Homo sapiens: one gene and its partner. The protein of the gene in region 2 interacts with the protein of the main gene of each other region in a biochemical or structural test. Each region holds a gene or a part of one and is shown on either strand. Other genes may lie near its edges.

Evidence for each region. The genes of interacting proteins can lie anywhere in the genome.
Region 1: the proteins of SUMO3 (region 2) and RNF111 form a complex in vitro, tested with the Homo sapiens proteins (one study listed by BioGRID).

Annotation. Positions count from the first base shown.
Region 1 is NC_000015.10:58,983,113-58,990,745, forward strand, and holds the start of RNF111 (E3 ubiquitin-protein ligase Arkadia), read left to right. Parts: upstream 1-4,550; 5' UTR 4,551-4,956; intron 4,957-5,025; exon of another isoform or gene 5,026-5,293; intron 5,294-7,633. UniProt on the Homo sapiens protein: E3 ubiquitin-protein ligase. Required for mesoderm patterning during embryonic development. Acts as an enhancer of the transcriptional responses of the SMAD2/SMAD3 effectors, which are activated downstream of BMP.
Region 2 is NC_000021.9:44,807,845-44,815,465, reverse strand, and holds part of SUMO3 (small ubiquitin-related modifier 3 isoform 1 precursor), read left to right. Parts: intron 1-1,361; coding exon 1,362-1,490; coding exon of another isoform or gene 1,491-1,604; intron 1,605-6,347; coding exon 6,348-6,419; intron 6,420-7,621. UniProt on the Homo sapiens protein: Ubiquitin-like protein which can be covalently attached to target lysines either as a monomer or as a lysine-linked polymer. Does not seem to be involved in protein degradation and may function as an antagonist of ubiquitin in the degradation process.

The sequences.
Region 1 (7,633 bases), on a different chromosome or scaffold from region 2:
AGAGATGGGGTTTCACTATGTTGGCCAGGCTGGTCTCCAACTCTTGTCCTCAGGTGATCACCCTTTTCTGCCTCCCAAAGCGCTGGGATTACAGGGATGAGCCGCCACACCCAGCCCATATAGAAAATTTTAATGAGAACTGTGCTACCTCAACTAAATCAGCAGTTATGGAGTCTATAGCACTTTTCTTTCAGTTTTAAGTTCCAGTGATATCTTCATATGCCAAGAAGAAAATAAAATATTCTGAATCACGAAGTGTTCTGATTAGTTCATCTCTGAGATCCTTTTAATTATTTCCAAAGCTTTACATCTGAGGAAATAGTTCACTAAATACTTTCAAGAATTTCCCAAGATCTTCTAACTCTTGCATTACATCTTCAAACTTTTCTCCATTTCTTCCAAAGAGCTCACGAAGCTGACCACATAATTAGTTACTCTCACTTGCAGACTTTATACAGTTGTGAACTATGCAATGGATGATGGGCATACCAGTCTTTCCTTCTGACTTTGATAGTTTGTAGAAATTTTCTTATTACCCTTGATTGCAGGTAACTCACTAATTCAGCCCAGTATTTCCATGTTTAGACCAAACTCCTCAAATTCCTGTCAGGCAGTAGTTAGATTCTGCTGGCCCATATATGCAGACTAATTTGGTAAACATTATTTGGCTGCAGTTTGAGGAAAGCAGAATTTGGTTTGGAGTGCATTTGGAAAAACTTGATCTCTCCACAAGTGAGTAAAATTAATTTTCAGATATTTAAAGTGATTTGATTAAGGATTTCTGGTTTCTTCTGGCAAAATTGAGATTAGAATCCCAATCTTCTTATTCAGTACAGTTCAATAAATATTTGAGTGCTATTTTTCTACTTAAGAGAGAAAGACATTTTCTCTGATTTTAAGTTTTGAGACAGGTATGTATGTAAACAATCATAATACTTAGATGTATGTATAAAGCTTGAAGAGAGTACTAAAACTGGAGTAAGTCCATTTCAAGGGGTGGGGAGAGCGGTAAGGAAATGCTTCATGGAAGACGGCTTGGAGGAATGGGTAAGAATTTGTTAAGCAGATAAAGCATGGGTGGGAAATGTGGAGAAAGGGGGTGAATTTTGAGACAGAAGGAACTGTGCAAAGGCAGAGAGATGGAAAAAGAGAGACATATATCTACAAGAATATGGAGTTAAGATCGGGTGAGTCTTGAACCTTGCTGGTATTCTGAAGGGTAAGAAACAGTAGAAAAAGAGAGAGGAAAGATAATGGAAATAAAAAGATGGTCAGTTGAAGAAAGTTCTTATGTAGGCAGAGGAAATGAGATCCAAATCTCACATGGAAGAATTAGCCTTGGATAGGAGAAAGGATAGCCTTTCCACTGAAACATGTGAGAGGGAAGAAGTGAGATTGTACTAATGCAATTAGGTTTGTTAGCTTCATGGGGAAAATTGATAGTTATATAGGAATAATATATATATATATTCTTTTACATATATATTATATATTCTTATATATAACATATATTCTTTTATATATATAATATATATTATATATTCTTTTATATATATATTATATATATATATATATATTTTTTTTTTTTTTCCTGGAGAATTACAAGAAGTTTGAGAAGTCCACCGAGGTCCAGGAAGGGTCAGGGGACAGGATGGGAACTAGGGCTGGTATGAAGTGATACTGAAGAATCTGGATTTTGAAGGGCTTTATTTGTCATGCTAAGGATTTTTAACTTGAAGGTGATGGAGGATCATTGAAAGATTTAAGCAATTTAATGTCTAATCAGTTTCTGCCATACTCTAACTGTGGCTTAAGGTTGAGTTTGGGGTGGTGTGGTGACAGTGGTGGAAGCAGAAGCATAGAAATCAGAAAATTGTTATGTGTAAATTAGGTGAGAGCCGCTTCTCACCCGAATCTACCATTATTCTTCTAAATACAACTGCGTAACACCTGTCCCTTCAACCTCACTCCTCTTCTGCTCTGGGCTTTGATTTGTTGCCCTTCTGCCATTATGGTAGTGACTATTCTGATTTTTAAAATCTCTTCTAGTCACTCTCCGCCCAGCATTTTCCAAAGCTCATATGTTTATAGATGGCCCTACCTCATGTTTCATAAGGAAGTCAAGGTCATTCAGTGAACAAGCCCTCAATTTGCCCCCTGAAGCTAACATACCTAAACTGCAGTCTTCTTCCTTCTCACCTGTTTCAGTGGAAAGGCCATCCCTTCTCCTATCCAAGGCTAAATTTCCATCTGAGCTTTAAATCTCATTTCCTCTGGCTCCATAGGTATTTTTCTCCATTGCGCATCCCTTTATTTTCTTTATCTTTCCACTCCTTTTTTCTACTGACTCTTTTCCTTCAGCATCCCAACAGGGTTGAAGCCCTCACCCTTTTATTTCATCTGGGGTTTCTCAACTGCATTATTAACATTTTCGGCCAAAGAATTCTTTGTTGTGGAGAGGCCAGCATCCCTAGCCTCTATCCTAGTGGATAGATGCCAGTAGCCACGCCCCTCCTCCCTGAGTTGTAACAAACAGCAATGTCTCCGGATGTTGCTAAATCATCCCAGCTTCAGAACCACTGATTTAACCCAATATATCCAAAATATTATTTCAACATATAATAAATATTAAAAAGTACTGAGATTTTTCAGTCTTTTTTTGTATTGTACCTTTGAAATTCGATGTGTATTTTTCACTTAAAGCACTTCTCAATTATTTTTATTTATTTATTTTTTTAGGGAGACGGAAAAGGAAAAGGGGAGGGGAGAGGGAGAAGAGGAGGGAGTCTAGCCACATTTTAAGTGCTCAGCAGCCACATATGGCTGGTGTCTACCTAATTGAAGAACACAGGTCAAAAGCTTCAGAAAAAAGGTTAGAGCTGGAAATACAGGTTTGAGAAGTCATGAGATAGTAACAGTTAAAATCAAGGGAGAAGATAAGATAGTCCGGGCAAAATTCTATGTTTAAGAGTGAGAAAATAGGAGGATTGAGGAAAATCCTAGTCGAATGCTCTTTTAGTTTTCCCACACAATCTGCTATCCTTGATCATTATTGTAATTTTAAAATCATTTGTGTGTGTGTGTGTGTGTGTGTTTTGTTTGTTTGTTTGTTTGTTTGTTTTGAGACGGAATCTCACTCTGTCGCCCAGGCTGGAGTGCAGTGGCACAATCTCGCACTCACTACAACCTCTGCCTCCCGGGTCCTAGCAATTCTCCTGTGTCAGCCTCCCGAGTAGCTGGGGTTACAGGCGCCCGCCACTACGCCCGGCTAATTTTTTGTATTTTTAGTAGAGACAGCGTTTCACCGTGTTAGCCAGGATGGTCTCCATCTCCTGACCTCATGATCCGCCCGCCTTGGCCTCCAAAAGTGCTGGGATTACAGGCGTGAGCCACCGCGCCCAGCCTTTTTTTTTTTTTTCTTGGAGACGGAGTCTCCCTGTCACCCGGGCTGGGGTGCAATGGCTTGATCATGGCTCACTGCAACCTCGGCCACCCTGGCTCAAGCGATTCTCCTGCCTCAGCCTGCCGAGTAGCTGGGATTACAGGCGTCCGCCACCACGCCCAGCTAGTTTTTGTATTTTTAGTGGAGAAGGAGTTTCACCATGTTGGCCAGGCTGGTCTTGAACTCCTGATCTCAGGTAGTCCACCCGCCTAGGCCTCCCAAAGTGCTGGGATTACAGGCGTGAGCCACCGTGCCCGGCCAAAATCATTTGCTTACTGAATGATACGGAAAATATGAGTGAACAAAAAAAGTATTGAAAAAGATGAGTTGATGGCAAAGGGAGGGAATTAATGTTTAGTGAACACTTAATTGGCAAGTAATGTTCAGAGCATTATATAAATTGTCTCATTTAATCTAACAAGAACCTTTTGAGGTAAATACGTTATCCCAATTTATAGAGGAGGAAACTAAGATTTATAAGGATCTCATCAATCAGAGAACTCTTAAGTGGCACCACTGGACTTTGAAAGGAAGTCTGCCTGATGGACTCTGAAGCTCATCCTCTCTCTATCCTCCTAATGCATATAATGACGCATTTGTTATCTACTGACTTTTATAAAATAAACAAGGAGGCTTATGCGATTGTACAGCCCGAGTTCGCAGGAGATATGTGACCACTTTTGATCTGATTCCGGAAGCAAATTCACTTTAACAGTGAGGTGCCGTGATCTTTATGTCATTAGCGCATATGATATGGGTATCATTTGTTGTGAAAGACACTAACCCATGATGTTTTTGTTTACGTATATCTGTAAATGTATCAATTCTGTAGTTGGTTAATTTTTAGTTACGAAAAAATGAACCAAGATGTAGTCAAGATTTGGCTTAAATGTTGAACGCATAATCACCAAAGAAAATTAAATAATGAGCTTTGTGACACCTTTCAGTTCGCCAACAGACTGATAAAACCAGTACAAAGGGGGAGGGCCGGGACCGAGGGGGCGGGACGGTGAGAAACGGGAATCGAGCAAGCGCAGAAACAAACAGATGTTAATGGAGGCGTGAAGGCTACTGCGCTCTCACTTTCCGAACTGTCGTAAAGAGCCCTAGTGTCGTGCTCTCCTCGGTAGGGGAGGAATTGGTTAGGCGGCGGCGGCGGCGAAGCGGCGGCGGCGGCTGTAGGGGAGCAGCGGCAGTGGCGGCGACGGCGAGGAGGTGTTCGGTTTGCGCAGCGTAGAAACGCCCGCAGCTTCAGAGAAGGAGTTCTTGTGGGACCAAATTAGGCATTCTGAACCCACGCCGGCTTAGCTGGGCCGAGTCCAGGCGCTGCCGCACGTACAGTTTTGGTGGCGGTGACAGACACTGTTCTTGACTCTAGGGGCCTATTAGGCCGACGTCTGAGGCGCAGATCGCTGGCTCTCGACGCATTACTCTTTACGCCTTACATTTCTGTCTTCCTTCCTGGGTCAGTGATTCCCGGACCCTGGAAGAGAAGAGGGTGGCTAATGATTAAGGTGAGGGGAACGGGGGGGGAGGGGATCCATTGGAGGCCGCGCGTGCGCGCAACGGGGGAGGGGCCGGCCTGGAGGGGAGAAAGAGGAAGGGCTGCGGCCGCGGAAGGCTGGGGTCGGTGACCGGCCGGTTATCTCTGGCTCGGTGGTGACTTAGGGTCTGGGTCTCCGCAGACGATTTGTGTTTGGGCAAGGCATTCGTCTACCGACACACCCACAGCCTACAGTGAGGGAGTGTGGGTGAGGGGATTTCTCTCCCACTTCCGACTCTCCCTAGAGTCTCAGGATGGGGGCTGAGGACCGAGGCGTGGGAGTGCGATTTGACAATGGAGTGATGAAGGTAACCCGGACCCGGGGAGTTGGAGGGCGCTAAGTCAGCCCTGACGGCTAGGGAGTCGCCTGCTGCTGCTGTGATCAAGGAAACGTAGTCCGCGGAACAGCTGAAATACAGACGCGTCAGATTTTGTATGGAGTTGGCTTGTTGGTCATTTAAAAAGAAACTGATGTTTTTACTATTGTCCTTCGATAATTTATCAGAGTCAGTGTCAGTGCTATAGTGGGAATATCTGTTCAGTGCAGCAGAAATAGATTTGTTACAACAGTTCTTAAATAGGTTATAGTAGATAGATCTTTACAGATGGGTATTTCTCAACCTAAGTTTTGATTATTCAAAAAATACCAGAAAGTATGAGGTATTCATTTAATTTGTTCGTGTGTGTGTTGTGGGGTGACTCCATTGTGTTGTTGTAAGCTTTCCTGTTTCTTGATTTATGTGCGGCATTAATTTAGAATTCTCTTGAATGGTAAGATGCCAGCTGACATAGACTACGTTTTGTAGGATTTCCTGTAGCTTTTGAATGTGACTTAATCTAAACTTTATTTCATTTGGTATTTTATCTATAATTTTCTTGTTTTAGGGGCCTCTTGAACTAAAAAGAACAAACTGGGAAAAACATAAGCTAAGGTTCCATTTCCTTTCCCATTTTTGTTGTGTGTGTGTGTGATGGTTGTAAATGCTTGAATGTGATTTTGAGATTACCATACACAACTTCTGTAACGCTGGACTTAGCTTTATTACAGTAAAGATACATCTTTTGATAGTTTATTACTATATGTATTTTTGTAAAAATCTTCATGTCAGTATAAGCCACATTGTTTCACCCTAGTCTGGTTATATTTGTGAGGTGAAACAGATGGATAAGAAGGAAGCCCTTTTACTTTTACAATCATTTTAAATTGATTGTTTCTAAAGCCTTGATTTATCTTATTTTGGACACTTTCTTGCCATTTAACCTTGGACAAATGACTTTATCATCTCTCTCCTGCTCATTTGTTTGTGACCAAAGATTCACAACAGTATTCTAAGAATTGGTGAGGGTGTTTATAAATCTAAATAATATTTTAGGAAAAAGTAGGAAGAATGAGTCTCCTTGTTTATCACGGGTGCTATATCATGTGCAGATCCTTCTGTCACTTCTTAACTTTTGTTTGGTGTCTGTTGGCCACTTGTTTGCTAGTTATTTCACCAGACATAGAACTGGTTTTTAAAGAAAGGTATAAACAAAGTGACTTCATTTTGGTGAAAAATGCATTACAGCAGAGGTTACATCTTAACGAATTTCACTTTGGTACTCCATTTCTACAGATTATTGAGAGAGAGCTGTTGTGATGTTTAAGAGAAAAGCACCTTGCTTGTATAAAGCTAAGGTGCAGTCATTTAGCAGATACTCCTAGTTATTTTACTTTAAAATAAAAAATATAAAGGAAACTAATTGAATCAAACCATTTAGATTTTTAGATGTTTCCTTCTTTTTTTTTTTGTTATAGTTTAAAGAGAGGTTTCTGTATCATGCTTTACTTGAGGCATACTTATGTGCCCTTCTTTTGACTTTTTCTCCCCTTTTGGGCCAAGACTTCAGTAGGAAATAAAAGAGACCATCTGAAAAATGATAGCAGTTAAAATATGTTATAACTTGACATTACCGTTCTATGGGTAACGTTATCTTATGAAATAATATAGGGCTAAGGACAGGAGATCTAGATTTTAGATCTATCTTTGCTTGCTATACATTAGATCTCCGAGTTTATTGTTAACCCTCCTTGGGCTTCAGGTCTCTCTGTTTAAATGAGAATTGTAGAATAGATAACTTTCGTTTTCTTTAGGTCCCAAATTTAATGGTTTGTATATCTAGTTAGGTTTTTGGTATTCATTGTTGTGTTTGTCGTAATTGAATCCCCAGAAAGAAATGCTGTACAAAAAGCATCAATTCCCTCATGAAATGTGTATGTGTAAAACCTGTCATGAAGCTGTGGGCCAGGCGTGGTGGCTCACCCCTGTAATCCCAGCACTTTGGGAGGCCAAGGCGGGCGAATCACTTGAGGTGACCAGTCTGGCCAAAATGGTGAAACCCCATCTCTACTGAAAATACAAAAAATTAGCCGAGCTTAGTGGTGTGCGCCTGTAGTCCCAGCTGCCTGGGAAGCTGAGGCAGGAGAATGGCTTGAACCTCGGAGGCGGAGGTTGCAGTAAGCGGAGATCGTGCCACTCACTGCACTCCAGCTTGGGCGACAGAGCGAGACTGTTTCTCAAAACAAACAAACAAAAAAACTATGATTGTTGTTCCACATATTATTGCTATTGTTGTCCCATTGTAGATATTAATTACTGAAGCTTTAATAG
Region 2 (7,621 bases):
GCCACTGGCATCCCGGGAGTGGGCAGGGGTGTCTGGCCCAAGACTGGAGTCGGGGGGTGAGTGCCGCCCCAGGACACGCACCTTCAGGCTCGCAGCTGGAGCCCCTCACTGCCAAGGCCCCTTGCAGGCCACTCTAGCTCCCTTGACAGAGCACCATGCCTCCCCAGGGTCTCCCCAGGGTGCATACCCCAGGGAAGCAAGCATGGGTGCAGTCCCTGGGTTCACCCTCAGGCGAGCCTTCTACATCCCACTCCCTGTATTTAGGCATCGCTGGGACAGTTGTCCCTCTCCCAGCCAGGGAAGGAAAGGAGAAGTGGAGAGAACAGGCGTGTGATGTACAGTGCTTCCTGAGGGCAGCAGCTCAGCATGGGGTGAAAGGGTACCAGGACGCCCCAGACTTGACTTTCAGAGTGAGCCGGAGGGCCCTGCCTCATTGCTTCACTCACAAACGACTTTATCCCAGCAGTGCAGGCCGGCAGAGGGGTGCCCCACTTTTCGGCTCAGACTGAGCTGCCCCGAAGTTGGCTCCCAGTCTCTTGACATCAGCTTTTTGCCTCAACTCAAAATGCATTTTCAGGCAACAAGACACCCCGATTGTGCCATTGTTGAGTAGCTTCAAGTATGGCATGAATTAAAAAATAAAATAGTACCACCTACTGCCGCTCAGATAGGACAGTTTGAAACCAGAAAGTACTCGGAGGTGGCTTCCCTCACATTTGCTGATGTCAGGGCAGCGAGAAGGAGCCTGGCCGCCTGCTGTGGGGAGTGGCCGTCCTCAGTTGGATTCCCGAAATCACCACTTGAATGTCCCATAGGGTTCCTCTGAGTCACAAATGTTTTCTTCTGTTTTTGGTTTCTTTTACTAGTGCTGTATAGCTGCATGACTTTTGGATATGTGTTTTTACTGGTTTCATAAGAATTTTTTAAAAAAGAGATGGGGTCTTGCTCTGTTGCCCAGACTGGTCTCAAACTCCTGGGCTTACGCCATCCTCCCACGTCAACTCCCAAAGTACTGGGATAACAGGTGTGAGCCACTGTGCCCAGCCCACAAGAATAACTTTAAAATAAAGATGGATTTTCTCTTATTTTTCCCTAGACTTTGTTTTTTTCTTTGAATTAACAATGTCAGAGGACCCTAGGCTTGCATTGTTTTACACATGGATGCTTAACAAGTGGAAGTTAAAAATAAATTCTGTGTAAAAATAAAACCATCACGAGTGACTCTGAATTGCTGGAGAATTTTAAGAATTAGGTTGGTTTTGATGACTTTAAAAAGCCAACAATTACCTAAAGACTTGCCCATTCAAGTCGCGGTTATTTTGAGACACAGTTTTGAGGCCAGTCTCTGGTGTCTTCTGCAGGAGGGTGTGAAGACAGAGAATGACCACATCAACCTGAAGGTGGCCGGGCAGGACGGCTCCGTGGTGCAGTTCAAGATCAAGAGGCACACGCCGCTGAGCAAGCTGATGAAGGCCTACTGCGAGAGGCAGGTGCGGCACCTTGCTCCCCCGCAGAGCCTCCCCGTGTGCGCACTGGTCCTGTGCGTTCCAGGCATCCCCAGAGCACGAGCGTCTCGGGGCTGGACCCAGATGCAGCTGCCCGAGGTGCCCTCTTCGTGGATGGGCAGGCGGGGGCTTGTGCTGTAAAATTAGTCCAGGCTGGGCTTGTCCCCCATGGCCTTTTATAAGGTGGAGGGACCTAGAGGCTCGGAGAAGTGTGGTGGGTTTTTCTTCCTGACAGGGCGGCTGCCCGGGGTGCTGTGTTCTCCATGGGGTACTAACATCTGTGAAGTCTGTGATGCTGAAGGCTCTTGGGGGCCCTGCTCAGGTCTGGCCATTCTGGGGCTGCAGGTGGCGTGTGCCCCACGCCGCTGTCACCCTGTCCTCGCGTATGAGCTGGCCTGACCCTGGAGAGACACTGCCCTCATGTGCGGTGTGGTTTTCCATTTTGTTAGGAAAGGCAAGAAAGCGCGTGATTCTTTCCCCTTCTTCCCCAGTTTCAGGATAATGAGCTGCCCCACTGGCAGTGCCCAGCTGGGTGGATGCCTTCTGGCTGCTGTTTGTGACGTGGTGTGTGTGTGTCTGTTGTTCTTGGTAACGCTGTGGCGGACTCACCCTGGGCCAGGGGGTCCCTCTCTAGGCCACTTTTATGGGCTTTGCCCACCAGCTGCTGCCTGGTGTGTTGGGGGCCCGGCCCTGCAGCCAGGCGCCCTTCCCCAGGGAGCCCTGCTTGCCTGAGTGGGACCTAGAGGCTGCTTTTCTTCAGCCGCTTTGAAAATACAGCAACTCGTTGCCCTTTTATTTTACTCTTTTGCCTGTGGATTTTCAGTTAGATTTCCTCCTCTTTCCCTCCCACTTTGGATACCCTGCTCATAGGGGCAGTCACTGGCGACTGCCTTGCATTCTTTATTGGCAAGCAGCCCCTGACTTCCTTTCTTTGTGTTTGCTGAGGGCAGATCTTATTTTCACCTGCGAAAGGTGAGACTGAGCTTCCAGACACGCAGGTCCCGGTCTTCCCAGCAGAGTGAGTGGCCTGGCGCCGTGTAGGCCCCGTGATCCAGCCTCTGCCTGATGCTGGGCCCTGGCCCTTGCTGGAGTTTGTACTGCCTGGGCTCGTGGCCACTGTGTGTGTGACTTCCCGGGTGCCCATGTTCTCCTCTGCGCTGCGGGATGGCAGGCGTGTGGGGCCGTGTACATGTGGGGGGGGCTCTGCCCTTCCCCCTGCTCTCCCGGAGCTCCCCTCCTGCCCCACCTGCACTGCTGCTTGTGAGGCTGGCTGCTCAGCCGTGGTCCAGGGCCTCCTGTTCAAATCCTTCTAGAAACTTGGGTTCTCTCTTGGGTGTTTCCTGGATTAGTCCTCCTCCCTTTTGTGTTTTGTGGTGGAGCACATCCTCCAGGGTCTTGTCAGAACGGGCACAGAAGGGCAGCGTCTTTGAGACACTGCATGGCTGAACGTGACTTTTGCTTTTATAAACCTTCACACTTCAGTATGTGGCTGCACGTAATATTCTCGGTTGAAACTTTTTTTTCTTTTTTATTTCAGAGGTCAGCCATGAGAATAGCTCCCAATGTTAAAAGTGAAAAGTTCACCAGGCATGGTGGCTTATGCCTGTAATCCCAGCACTTTGGGAGGCTGATGTGGGAGGATCACTTGAGGTCAGGAATTCAAGACTTGAGGTCAGGAGTTCAGTGCCAAGCCTGGGCAACACAGGGAGACCCTGTCTCTACGAAACATTAAAAAAATTAGCCAGGTGTGGTGGTGCAAGCCTATAGTCCCAGCTACTCAGGAGGCTGAGGTGGGAGGATTGTTTGAGCCCAGGAGGTGGAGGCTGCAGGGAGCTGAGGTCATATCACTGCTCCAGCCTGGGTGACAGAGCAAGACCCTGTCTCAAAAAAAAAAAAAAAAAAAAAAAGGTGAGAAGTTCAGTGGATTCTGATTCTCTGTGCTTTGTTTGTAACTTGGTTTTTCCCTGGAAGTATCTGGGACCATATTCTGGCATTCAGTGTTTCCTTATGTGCCTCAGAGGTGGGTGATTTTCTCACTCATGCTGCTGGGCACTTTATGGGTCTGGACGTTTATTTTTATTCAGGAAATATGCCTTATGTTAGTTCTCTGATAATTTGTATCCTTCTCCAGACTCTGTTCCCTCTTTTTGGAGTTCCTGTTCCTCCTGCTGCTCATTGTCCTAGATATTTTAAATTTGATAATTTTTCTCCCATTTTGCTTTGGGCTTTATTGTTGCATTTGGGCTTCTTTCCGGGAGGTCATTTCAACTTTATCTTTCCACTTCCTGTGGACATTCTCATCTCTGTCATGATTTTTAATTTCCAAAAGTTCTTTTTTCTTTCTGTTCTTTGAGTGTTCTTTTTTTCTCAGTAGCAACTTATTTTTTTTGAGACAGGGTCTCACTCTGTCCCCCAAGCTGGAGCGCAGTGGTGTGATCATGGTTCACTGCAGCCTTGAGCCCTGGGGCTCAAGTGATCCTCCCACCTCAGCCTCCCGAGTAGGTGGGACTCCAGGTACACGCCACCACGCCTGGCTCATTTTTTTATTTTGTGGAGATGGGGTCTCCTTATGTGGTCCAGGCTGGTCTGGAATTCCTGGGCTTAAGTGATCCTTCTGCCTCGGTCTCCCAAAGTGCTGGGATTACAGGTGTGAGCCACCGCACCCATCCTCAGTAGCAATTGATTGTTTTCTGAAGGTAGTAGTATTTTTTACTTCCCATAGAATTTGAATCGTGAGTGTAGGTGTGTGTGGTGTGTATGTCCGTGTCTTTGTGCATGTGTGTGTATGTGTGGGTGTGTGCCTGTGTGTGTATGTGTGGGTGTGTGCCTGTGTGTATATGTGGGTGTGTGCATGTGTGTGTATGTGGGTGTGTGCATGTGTGCATTCGTGTGTGTGTATGTGTGGGTGTGTGCGTGTGTGTATGTGGGTGTGTGCGTGTGTGCATATGTGGGTGTGTGCATGTGTGGGTGTGTGCATGGGTGTGTGCATGGGTGTGCATGTGTGGGTGTGTGCATGTGTGTGGGTGTGGGCATGTGTGGGTGTGGGCATGTGTGTGCCTGTGTTGGGAGTGTTCTCCTGCCTCCTTCCTGTCCGTTCTCCTCTGCGCTCCTCCCCTCCTCTCTAGGCTGCTGCACAGTGAGCCTTTCCCTGACTGCTCTCACGCAGGCTGACTTCTGTGCAAGCATGGAGCACCGAGAAGCTGCTGAAAAGCTGTGTACATGGATGGCTGTGCTGCCAGGGCTGTGCATCCACATGGGGTGATCTGTCTGGATTGCAGGTTCTGGAGGCGCCCAGATGCTACAGTTTGAGAGTTGAGTCCTCCAGGCTCCGGCCAGCCTCCTGGAGGCGCATCTGGAGGGGAGAGGGGACTTGGCGCACAGTGTTGAGGGCACGCGCTTTCGTGGGCCTGTTTCCGCCCTGCGCCTGGAGCTCCGCACCCACCTTCTCAGAAAGCACATCTCATGTGTGCTGCCGTGGGAGGCACAGGGTTGTGGGGGTCCTGCCTGAGGGGTCTGCATGTGAACTTCCAGGCAGCTGTTCAGAATCAGCTGCCTGCCACAGCTCTGCCTCACAGGTTGGGGCGTGCCCAGTCCCTCCGCCCTAGGATCCTGGTCCAGTGTCCATCAGACCACCAGTGTCCACGCCTCAGTAGCCTCTGGCTCAGCCCAGCATTGACATATCTGCCCATCCCCACTCCCGTTTTCTTTGTCCTTCCTGTTTGTGCCTTTTTCATTTACTTCATTTCAGTGGGGTTTCAGGAGGGAGCAGAGATGCACGTTTTAACCCCGTCTGTCCTGTTTCAGTTAAATCAAAACTGCTCGTTGAGGAAATGTTTCTGCCCCTGACCACATTTCTCCATTCCCTCAGGACGCAGAAAGGCTGCGTGCTCTCCTTCCTGCTGCCCTCCTCAAGGCCAAAGTCATGGTGGTAACTGCTCCCCGGCCTCATGCAGCCTTCTTATCTGTCCCTCATTGGCACACAACCTGTTCCTTGCTGAGAACTTTGTAAAGGGGGGAAGTAGTGGTGCCAGCATTGTAGAAGTTCTACTCGGCTTCTGGAAAGATGGGAGGGATGACCCAGGACAGGTCAGGGCACCAGGACAGAGAAGATTCAGTGTTTGAATTGACCATTCCACACGGCCACTGCACTGAGAAACTTTGATTGAAAAGCTAGCCACTGGAAGGTTAGTATTCACCTGGCGGCTCATTTCCCCTCCCCTGGCACATCACCAATGCTAGTCCAGCTTTTCTCCTGCTCCTCAGAGACCTCCTGGCTGACAGCTGTCTGAGCTAGCGTCACTGTGACGTGTTACGCTTCCTCACCTGGGTTTCGTATGTAAAGAAAGGGTGGATTTTAGAGGTACATGAGTTTGGATGTTAGTCTAGGACGTCTCTTGTGTTCTGGTGTTTGAATGTAAGTCGGCTTTCCTTCTGCCATGGACCACTTACCTATCTGCTTTGAAACTGAACTGCCACTGGTTTGGCTTTAAGAAGTTCCCAGTATGCAATGGTGTAACAAAACCTGGGTTGAAAATGAGCCGTTTTAGCTCATCAGAGAGAAGATGGTAGAAGAGTGGGTTCTGAAAGCAGTGGTGTCAGGCACCGCGTGAAAGAGATTGTAGGCCCACTGGTGAGTTTTTAATACTGAGCTGGATCATAAATCTGCATATCAGAATGCTGATACTTGGATTAAAATATTTGGTTTTTGAATTAAGCCGTATCTGGAAATGTTTAATGGCCACTGCTTTTCCTCTCCAGGGCTTGTCAGTGAGACTAATGGCCACTGCTTTTCCTTTCCAGGGCTTGCCAGTGAGACTAATGGCCACTGCTTTTCCTTTCCAGGGCTTGTCAATGAGGCAGATCAGATTCAGGTTCGACGGGCAGCCAATCAATGAAACTGACACTCCAGCACAGGTACGGAGCTGGCTTCGCGTGGTTCCAGGGCGACTTCCGATTTGTGCGGGGTAACTGCCATTTGGGATACGCTTATTTGAGAATTGTAGGTGGGAGCTCATACAGAATGCCTTAATGATATTGATTATTAGATTATTTATTTTTCACATTTTAAATTTAAATTTTCAAATGAGAAAACTGCTTTGCAGACATCATTCTTGCTGTTTGGAGATGGAGCCAAGTGCTGGGCCCGTCCTCACTGTAAGGGAAGCGGGGGTGCAAGGACCACTCAGCGGCCCCTTCCCACTCATTGTCTGGACGCTTGCTGTTGTAGCCCGTGTGCAGCTTAGGGGCCAGCTGGATTCTTGTGCCCTTTAAGCATCTTGCACAAGTGACGTGGGTGGGCAGAATGTGCCATAACCCCTGATTATCAGTCTGCACAGCTCGTTTCTCTCAGGCACATGCAGACATGAATGAGATTTCATCTATCACGTTGCAGGGCATCATACTGTCATGGAAAGAGCTTTGGACCTGGAAACAGACTTTTTTTTTTGAGACGGAGTCTCGCTTTGTTGCCCAGGCTAGAATGCAGTGGCGCAGTCTCAGCTCACTGTGCAAGCTCTGCCTCCTGAGTTCACGCCATTCTCCTGCCTCAGCCTCCCAAGTAGCTGGGACTATAGGTGCCCACCACCACTCCCGGCTAATTTTTTTGTATTTTTAGTAGAGACGGGGTTTCACCATGTTAGCCAGGATGGTCTCGATCTCCTGACCTTGTGATCTGCCCACCTCAGCCCCCCAAAGTGCTGGGATTAAAGGCATGAGCCAACGCGCCCGGCCGAAACAGAGTTTTTTTTTAAACTTGGTTCAAGTTGCAGCTCTTGTCATTTGTCAGCTGATGGCCCCGTGACCAAGCATCACTTCATCTTGTGGAGTCTCAGTTTTGTCTGTCCATAAATGGAACCAATACCTGCTTTTTCTCCCTTTCAATGTTGTGAGAATCCACTGGAATGTTTTATGTGGAAATATTTTTGCAAAACATTTAAGATTTTAAATATTTACTATTCAGTATTTAATAAATATTGAAAACATCTTTGCAACAAGTATCCATTTGTACCTACTTGAGGAAACCTACACACCGCTGAGGCAGTGGCAGCTCTGGGAGTGTTCACCAGGGAGAAGCTGCTGAGAGCAGCTGAGCAGGGAGGGCCTCGTGGAGTCTCTGG